Regions from separate parts of the Homo sapiens genome. Here region 2 is linked to region 1. The links come from fine-mapping of genetic effects on gene expression. A gene starts in region 1. The other region holds a variant in brackets. All regions are shown on one strand. Distances are from middle to middle. Region 1 holds the start of GRIN2D (glutamate ionotropic receptor NMDA type subunit 2D). Region 2 overlaps GRIN2D (glutamate ionotropic receptor NMDA type subunit 2D).

Region 1 (4,511 bases):
AATCTCTCTCCTTCGCCAGCCCTGGTGGGCCTCTCACCGGCGCACGAGCGGGACTTCCAGATTTTGAGCAGTAGCAAGATGATGGCGAGGAGGTGGGAGAGGTCTCCCAGGAATCGGAAGAGATTCATGGCTGGGGAACCCTGGCAGGGCTGAGCGGGAGGGAGGCAGGCTGGCGGGGGGGTGCCCCCCGAGGCTGCTGGTCTGAACGGGTAGCTGGGCTGGGGGGACGGAAGAGGGACCCTAGGTGCGCTCCGCTCCGGGGAGGGGACTTTGGGAGGGGGAGCAAAGGCTGGAGCTGGCGGCGGAGCTGGAGCCGGGAAGAGGGAGGAGAGCGAGAGGGGGAGGAGTCCGGGAGGAGAGGCTCCGCCCCCGAGGGCGGGGCCTGGATCCCCGGCGCCCCCTATCGCCCACCTCCTGCTTTGCCGTGGCGGCGCTAAACGCACCCCCAAAGCTGCCCCATAGGAACTTGGGAGGGTCGCAGGGTTCGGAAAGTGCCAAATCCAGCACCGGTTCGCCCAGGCAGTCTGTGTCTCTGGAAGAGACGCAGTCCAGTACACCAGCCTCAGCCCTTGCAGGGATGTAGAGACTGCCCTCTGAGCTTGAAAAATCCTGCAGGGACCCGGAGGCTCAGCTGCTAGCTTTTGCAGCTTTCAGGCACTCTAACTCCAATCCCCCAGAAGACAAGAAAGATACCCCACCTACTTCCTCCCCTAGACCCAGGACTCAAGGCCCCAGCCCGTTCGTCAAACCCAGAAGTCTGGGTCCCCAGCCCCTCCTCCCTCAGACCCAGGAGTCCAGACCCCCAGCCTCTCCTCCCTCAGACCCAGAAGTCCAGACCCCCAGCCCCTCCTCCCTCAGATCCAGGAGTCCAGGCCCAGCTCCTCCTCGCTCAGACCCAGGAGTCCAGGCCCCCAGCCTCCTCCCTCAGACCCAGGAGTCCAGGCCCCCAGCCTCCTCCCTCAGACCCAGGACTCCAGGCCCCCAGACCCTCCTCCCCCAGATCCAGGAGTCCAGGCCCCCAGCCCTTCCTCCCTCAGACCCAGGAGTCCAGACCCCCAGCACCTCCTCCCTCAGACCCAGGAGTCCAGATCCCCAGCCCCTCCTCCCTCAGACCCAGGGGTCCAGGGCCCCAGCCCCTCCTCCCTCAGACCCAGGGGTCCAGGGCCCCAGCCCCTCCTCCCTCAGACCCAGGGGTCCAGGGCCCCAGCCCCTCCTCCCTCAGACCCAGGAGTTCAGGGCCCCAGCCCTTTTCCCTCCTAGGACGCTGTTCCTTGGAACTTAGGGTCCCACCCCCACCATCTTATGGATCAAACATCCTAACCTTAAGAATCTAGATCTACAGTTTCTCCCTTTACGACCCACAGATTTAGGCCCTGATTCTCTTCTTTTTCAGGAATGTGCACCTCACCCTGTTCTCCCAGACCTTGAGGATGAAGGAAACAGGAGCCTCACCCAGGAGGCTCAAGGCCAAAACTCTGACCCAAACTACCTCAGGAGCCCCTGGCCCTGGCTTCCCCCCTGCTCCAGAGTTTCTGCCCTGCCCACACACACACACCCTCTTCCACCCTCAGAGGCCCCGGTGTCCTGCCCCACGCTCTACCCCAGAGCCCCACGGGTGGCTTTATAAAAGTGCCGGGCCCAGCCCTCTAGCAGGAGGGGAATGCTGGGCATCTGGGTGTGGGACCCCCGGGGAACAGCCTGTGGTCTGGACTCCTGCATCTATGAGGGGACAGACGTGGCTTCCCTTCCGGATGATGGGGTACCCACAGATGATGGAGGCCAGGGTCCCTCAATAAAAGAAGGGGTGCAGGCGTGTTGATTTCTTCAGAGGGCTGGAAGGACGGGGTGCCCAAGGGTGACATCCACGAGTCTTGGGTCCCTGAGGGTGGCTTGTACGGGGGAGAGTCGGGATGACTGAGTCCTTAAAAGAGACTCCGACTTGGAGGCGGTCCCCAAATTCCTGGGTCCCAGTAGAGAAGGGGACTCCTGGGTCTGAGGGAGGAGGGGCTGGGGGGTGGGACTCCTGGGACCAGGGTCGAGACCTGGTTTTCAGGCCTGGCCTTCTGGGGCAATAAAAGCCACAGCTTGGGTCTTAGTGTGGCGAACACTGAAGTCAGGGAAAGGCCTCCTGTTTCCAGAGCCTCAAGGCAGGGCGGGGGCAGAGGGCAGCAACCCCCAGCCCTGGAGTCTAGCTCTGAAGCTGGTGTCTCCATACCGGGTTCTGAGTCCCTGCCTGCCTGTCCCCAGCCTGACTTCTTCCTCCCTTTTTATTTTCAGCCCCTCACTCCCTTGTCCCAGGAGGAAGGCAGAGGCTGGTAGCTAGGGGTGGGGGGCGGCCCCCTCCCCAAGCCTGGCAGGAGAAGGGGTCCCCAGGGAGGCCAGGAGGGGGGGCTGTGGGTCTCCCGGCAGTGGCAGACGGGGACTGAATGTTAATCGCATCCCGAGTGAGTGTGTGTGTGCGAGAACACAGCGAGTGTGTGAGTCCCTCCCGCTCCAGCTCCTCCAAGCCGCGGCCGCCGCCGCCACCCTCGCCCGCAGCCTCCCGCAGCCTCCCTCGGCCACCGGTGCCTGCTGGGGGTGTTGCCTGGGTAGGTCGGCCCGGCCCCCAGGGGTCTCTCGAGCGTCTGCCATCTGCCCGGTGAGGATCTGTGTGTCCGGGTGTCTGGGGCTGGCTGGTGGAGGGGGGGTGTGTCTGTAAGCGCTGCGGCGGCGGAGGGAGGGAGGGGTCTGTCTGTCTGTACCGACCCTGAGCTGCCTGCCTGGGTGTCGTGGGGCTCCCGCTCCTTCCCCCCGGCCCCCCCAAACCCAGATGGATGGTGTGTACCTGGGTTCTGTGCCTCCTGCCTGCGTCCGGCCAGGCGTCTGGGCGTCCCCGGCTGCCTGTGTCCTCCTGTCTGTCCAAACAGCCCCTATCAGCAGTGGCAGCCTGGCCCCCATTAGACCCCCCACTCTGTGTGTGTGTGTCTGTGTGTGTGTCCCTCCTCAAGCTCTGGGGGTGTTGAGGGGGAATCCCAGGGAAGTGAGATCGTGCGTGTGTGCGTGAGTGTATGTGTGTTTCTGCCTGTGTTTGAGAGTGGGGGAGTCAAGGGGGGGTCTAGAGGTGGCCAAGCGAGGAAGGGGCAAGCAGTTCCCCAAGCAGGCAATCTCCCGCTCCTCACACGCACACACCAGCCACTAGCTTCAGAGGTGACCCAGACAGACAGATAGACACAGACGCTGGAAGGGGGGGTGGGGGGGCTGAGGGCACAAAGCGGGGGTGCGAGTGAGCCAGGGAGAGGCGGGACTGGACACATGGAAAGGGGGGAGGAGCCGGGGCTGAAGCGGCAGAGGGGGGCACCCCGGGTGGGCGGAGGGGGGATCCCCACGGGGTCGGGGCGGCAAGAGGACACCCCGACAGCCTCTGCAATGTCCGGGGCCCAACTTCCAGAGCAACATGTGTAGCCACGTCCTCGCCTAGTCCAGGTGGCCGCAACCTTGGGGGAGAGACAGGGCAGGACAGGACCAAGGAAGAGGAAGGAGAGACGGAGCCAGGGACAGACAGGAGGTCCGGGCTGCCGCTGCTGCCGCCACCACCACTGCCGCCGCCCCGGGGCCTGCCCCCCGACATCGGCTCTCTGAGCCCTCCTCGGAATCTTGGGGTCGCTGGACGCCGGGTTCCGGTCCTGGCCCCCCCGCCATCCCCCCAACAGAACAGGGTCATGAAAAGGTAAGGCGGGGACAGGGGATGCAGGGATGGTGGTGGGAATGTGGACCCCCAAATCTAGGACAGAGGAAGTTGGCAAGAAGCCTCGTGGAGGGAGGGGGTTTGAACGGTGGGCAGGGGTCTTGACCCCCACCTAGCTCCCCTGTCCCTCAGGGACTCTCCTCCACCCTCTCTCTCTCCCTCTCTGAGCCCCTTTTTCCTGAGTCCCTACACCTCAGACCTTTCACGCCCCCATTTCTCTGACACTTGGCTCCCTCTCCCCATCCCCACATACCTGATGCCCCATATCCCTGTGCCTCCATCTCTCTATCTCACCTTCTCCCTGTACCCCCCTCCCTGCATCAGTCCCCCCATCGCGAGCCGGTCCTCTCCCTCTCTCCTCTCGCTCTCCCCTCCCATGTCAGAGCTATGAGTCTGCTATTAATACCCCCGCCAAGGACCTTGAGGGCATCCAGGCCCCCAGCACCCCTCGCCCCAAGCTCCCACCCCTTCCTCAAGGTTCTGGAACACCCTTCCAGCCTCTTCCAAGCATCAGGATTCGGGTGGGGAGAGACCGATGTTGTGTGTGTGTGTTGGGAGGTGAGGGGGGAGGAAACGGGATGCCGTCTGCAGCACAACTCGAGGTTGTGGGGGGAGCTGTTGATCGAAGTGGCCGCTCCTCTCTTCTCTGTTGGATGCTGTGGGGGGCAATGAAGACAGGGACACCCTAGGAATTTCTGGCACCCTCCTCCTCCTCCCCGCTTGGGGACAGGCTGTGCTATGTACAGGATCTAAGTGGGGTGACTAGGGAGGCCAGAGCTCGGTGGGG
Region 2 (4,000 bases), 27 kb after region 1:
GTGAACCACCACACCCAGCCACCTGTGAGTTTTGAGTAAAGCATGGGTGCTTGAGAGAGTGATCAGGACAGAAAGGAGAGTGTGACAAGGCTGAGTGGCAGGGACTTTGTCCTGGGGGTGCTAGGGAGCCTGGGGAGGGCTGTAAGCAGGGGAGGGGCCAGGTCCTCTCTGTGCTGTGTGGGGGATAGGCTGTAGGGGACAGACAGGAGCTCAGGAGGCTGGGGAAATGGTTGGTGGGAGGAGATGAGGCCTGAGCCCTGTTGGCCATGAGAATGGAGAGGAGAGGCCCAAGTAGCATCAGGGGCAGGAGCGTGGGGCTGGATACTGACAGGCTGTGGCCAGCGAGGGAGAAGGAGGGAGGAAGGGAGGACGGCAAATGAGGTTTGGGCCTGTGACTGGGTGGATGGTGGGGCTCCCATCATGAGGAGCGTGGGAGCTGGTCTGGGCTCAGCATGGGACATGATGAATGGCCTGAGGAGATGGCTGGGGTAGGTGGAGGCTTGGGCCTGTGACTCAGGAAACATTTAGGAGACAGTTTCTATTTGGTGGCTGAAACCACAGAAATGCCTGCGACGGCTCTCTTTGAGAATGGCTGCCTCCTAGGGGTATGGGTGTGCCATAAGACTATCTTGGAGATGGAGAAGCAGAGATAGGGCCAGAATAGGATGGGGTCAGATCTGGGCTGCACCTTGTTCCCTGCTGGTAGTACCCTAGGGTTTTTTTTCTTTCTTTTTTCTTCCTTTTTTTTTTTTGTAGAGACAGGGAGTTCAAGGCCAGTCTGGTCTTGAACTCCAGGCGTCAAGTGATCCTCCTGCCTCAGCCTCCCAAAGTTCTGGGAGTACAGGCGTGAGGCACCGCCCCAGCCTGATCCCCGAGTCTTTTGCTTGGCTGAGCCATAACCACGCACTCCCTTGTCCCCAGAGCCCTACAGCCCCGCCGTGTGGGTGATGATGTTCGTCATGTGCCTCACTGTGGTCGCCGTCACTGTTTTCATCTTCGAGTACCTCAGTCCTGTTGGTTACAACCGCAGCCTGGCCACGGGCAAGCGTGAGTCCCCCTTCCTCCATCCCCCGCCTCGGAGATCCCGAACCACAGAGACAGAGAACTACATTTCCCAGCAGCCCCTGGAGGGGGGGCGGTCAAGCTAGGGCCTCTCGGGAGGTGCCAGATGCCTTGAGGGCCACTGGGAATTGTAGTTCTTTCTTTTTTTTTTTTTCCCTTCCTTATTGAGAAGGGATTTGGGGTCCATGTCCACGTCCTGGCCCCCTGCAGGCCCTGGCGGTTCAACCTTCACCATTGGGAAATCCATCTGGCTGCTCTGGGCCCTGGTGTTCAATAATTCGGTGCCCGTGGAGAACCCCCGGGGAACCACCAGCAAAATCATGGTGCTGGTGTGGGCCTTCTTCGCCGTCATCTTCCTCGCCAGCTACACAGCCAACCTGGCCGCCTTCATGATCCAGGAGGAGTACGTGGATACTGTGTCTGGGCTCAGTGACCGCAAGGTGTGTGTGGGCCCAGGGCTGGGCTGGAGCTGGGGCTGGGGCTGGAGGTCACAGAGCTTGTCATGTGGTAGATTAGAGGGGATTCTTGCGGGGGGCGGGGGTGAGAGGGGTGGGGGGAGGGCGGGAAGGGGTCTCTTCCCAAGGAGAATTCCAGAATGGTAGAATGGAATGTTGTGGATGAAGAAAGAACACGGTTCACGATGAGCTATTTAAAATATTCCTAGGGAAGAGGGTGTCCCTGAATGTTCTAGGGGCAGTTGTGTCAAATAGGATATTCTAGAACCAGTGCTTCTCTCAAACTGTGAGGAAGGATTAATTTTTGAAACTTCTAAGGCTGGGCGCGGTGGCTCACACCTGTAATCCCAGCACGTTGGGAGGCCGAGGCGGGCGGATCACGAGGTCAGGAGATCGAGACCATCCTGGCTAACACGGTGAAACCCCGTCTCTTCTAAAAGTACATAAAATTAGCCGGGCGTGGTGACAGGCACCTGTAGTCCCAGCTACCCGGGAGGCTGAGGCAGGAGAATGGCGTGAACCCAGGAGGCAGAGCTTGCAGTGAGCCGAGATCGCCCCACTGCACTCCAGCCAGCGCGACAGAGTTAGACTCTGTCTCAAAAAAACAAAAAACTGCTAGTCCATTGCAGACAATGCTTTTGTAAAATTCAACGGAAATGAATTATTAGAAAAGTAAAATAAGATCTAAAACCAAGACAGACAAAAGTCAAACCTGGCCAGGAACGGTGGCTCACGCCTGTAATCCCAGCACTTTGGGAGGCCGAGGTGGGTGGATCACCTGAGGTCAGGAGTTCGAGACCAGCCTGGCCAACATAGTGAAACCTCGTCTCTAATAAAAATACAAAAATTAGCCAGGCGTGGTAGTGGGTGCCTGTAGTCCCAGCTACTTGGGAGGCTGAGGCAGGAGAATC[G/A]CTTGAACCCGGGAGGCGGAGGTTACAGTGAGCCATGATTACGCCACAAATAGAACTGATTCCTAGCCTGGGTGACAGAGCGAGACTCTGCCTAAAAAAAAGCCAAACTCACATTTTTATTTATTAGATTCAACAGACGAAAAAGAATTCTGTCAAATCACTCTAAATGCTCACTCTCTCCATTCCTGTACACATCTCACTGCAATCACCGTTTGTTGAGGGACTGGTGGTTTGCAGAGCATACTTTGAGACTAAAGTGATTAACTAGCTGGGTGTCATGACCTATTAGAGGCTTGAGAAATCAGTTTGATGGGTTGCAATAAGCATTTTTTAATGGAATGGAGTAGAATAGAATAGTTGCCTGCATCTTATGTATAAGTTTGGTTTTACAAAACTTGTTTTAGTTGTCTGGGCGCGGTGGCTTATGCCTGTAATCCCAGCACTTTGGGAGGCCAAGGCGGGCGGATCACCTGAGGTTGGTAGTTCGAGACCAGCCTGACCAACATGGAGAAACCCCATCTCTACTAAAAATACAAAACTGGCTGGGCATGGTGGTATGTGCCTGTAATCCCAGCTACTCGGGAGGCTGAGGCAGGAGAATCAGTTGAACCTGGGAGGCGGAGGTTGCAGTGAGCTGACAGTGTGCCATTGCACTCCAGCCTGGGCAACAAGAGCAAGACTCCGTTTAAAAAAAAAAAAGTGAACTATTTCTGAACGGATTGGTAAATAGCAACAGCTCCCAGCTCCTGCCATGCCAGCCTCTACTCCCAGGACCTCCCGCGATTCAGTAAGTGAAGACTTAACACCTGGCACATCAGGGGCCTCAGGGAGGCTTCTCGTGAACTTTTGGATCACGTGTCTGCAACCGTGTGTGCTGGGTGGGAGTGGAAAAGCATTCCCTAATGTAGTGAGCGAGTGTTGAGAAATATTGAACACTCCTGGGACTGGGGTGTCTGCCAGATAGCGGGTGTGTCTCAGAATGGGTGATTTATGTTAGGGATGTCCCTGCGGAGGGTGCCCTAATCACTCCCCATTCTGCCCCAGTTCCAGAGGCCCCAGGAGCAGTACCCGCCCCTGAAGTTTGGGACCGTGCCCAACGGCTCCACGGAGAAGAACATCCGCAGCAACTATCCCGACATGCACAGCTACATGGTGCGCTACAACCAGCCCCGCGTAGAGGAAGCGCTCACTCAGCTCAAGGCAGGGTCAGCGCAGACTCGGGCCGGGGGTGGGGGTTGGGCCGCTGGGGACCTGAGGATGCTCAAAGATGGCAAGGGGTCCAGGTTCATTCATTCAGTCCCAGAGGTCAGCCCTGGGTGGGTCAGCTTGGAGGGCGGAGGTCACTGAGGGTGGAAGTGGACTCCTCCTCCCAGGAGCAGGCTCCTTGGGATATTTTCTGGGATGCAGTATTTCTGGATTCTGGGGTGAGACTGATGGGGCTCAAATCTTTGCTCTTCCCCTTCTTGGCTTTGTGACCTTGGGCAAGTTACTCAGCCTCTCTGAACCTCTGTTTCCTCCTCTGTAAAATGAGGATAACAAGAGTATCCCCACTGTAATGATCATAAGGTTGTT

The links.
Region 2: its variant is fine-mapped to the expression of GRIN2D in whole blood (TOPMed, PIP 0.94).

Annotation. Positions count from the first base shown.
Region 1 is chr19:48,391,231-48,395,741 of GRCh38, forward strand. GRIN2D (glutamate ionotropic receptor NMDA type subunit 2D) reads left to right here and starts at 2,438. Exons shown (of 14, transcript NM_000836.4): 1 at 2,438-2,638; 2 at 3,428-3,706. It overlaps KDELR1 (KDEL endoplasmic reticulum protein retention receptor 1), which reads right to left and starts at 321. Exons shown (of 5, transcript NM_006801.3): 1 at 38-321. The coding sequence starts at 128. RefSeq lists a silencer at 158-477.
Region 2 is chr19:48,418,313-48,422,312 of GRCh38, forward strand. It overlaps GRIN2D (glutamate ionotropic receptor NMDA type subunit 2D), which reads left to right. Exons shown (of 14, transcript NM_000836.4): 9 at 922-1,047; 10 at 1,273-1,502; 11 at 3,473-3,633. Among named protein-coding and RNA genes, the nearest start is that of GRWD1, 26 kb to the right of the region's middle. RefSeq lists enhancers at 355-1,121, 872-1,111, 1,172-1,411. The variant G/A (reference allele first, on the strand shown) is at 2,429.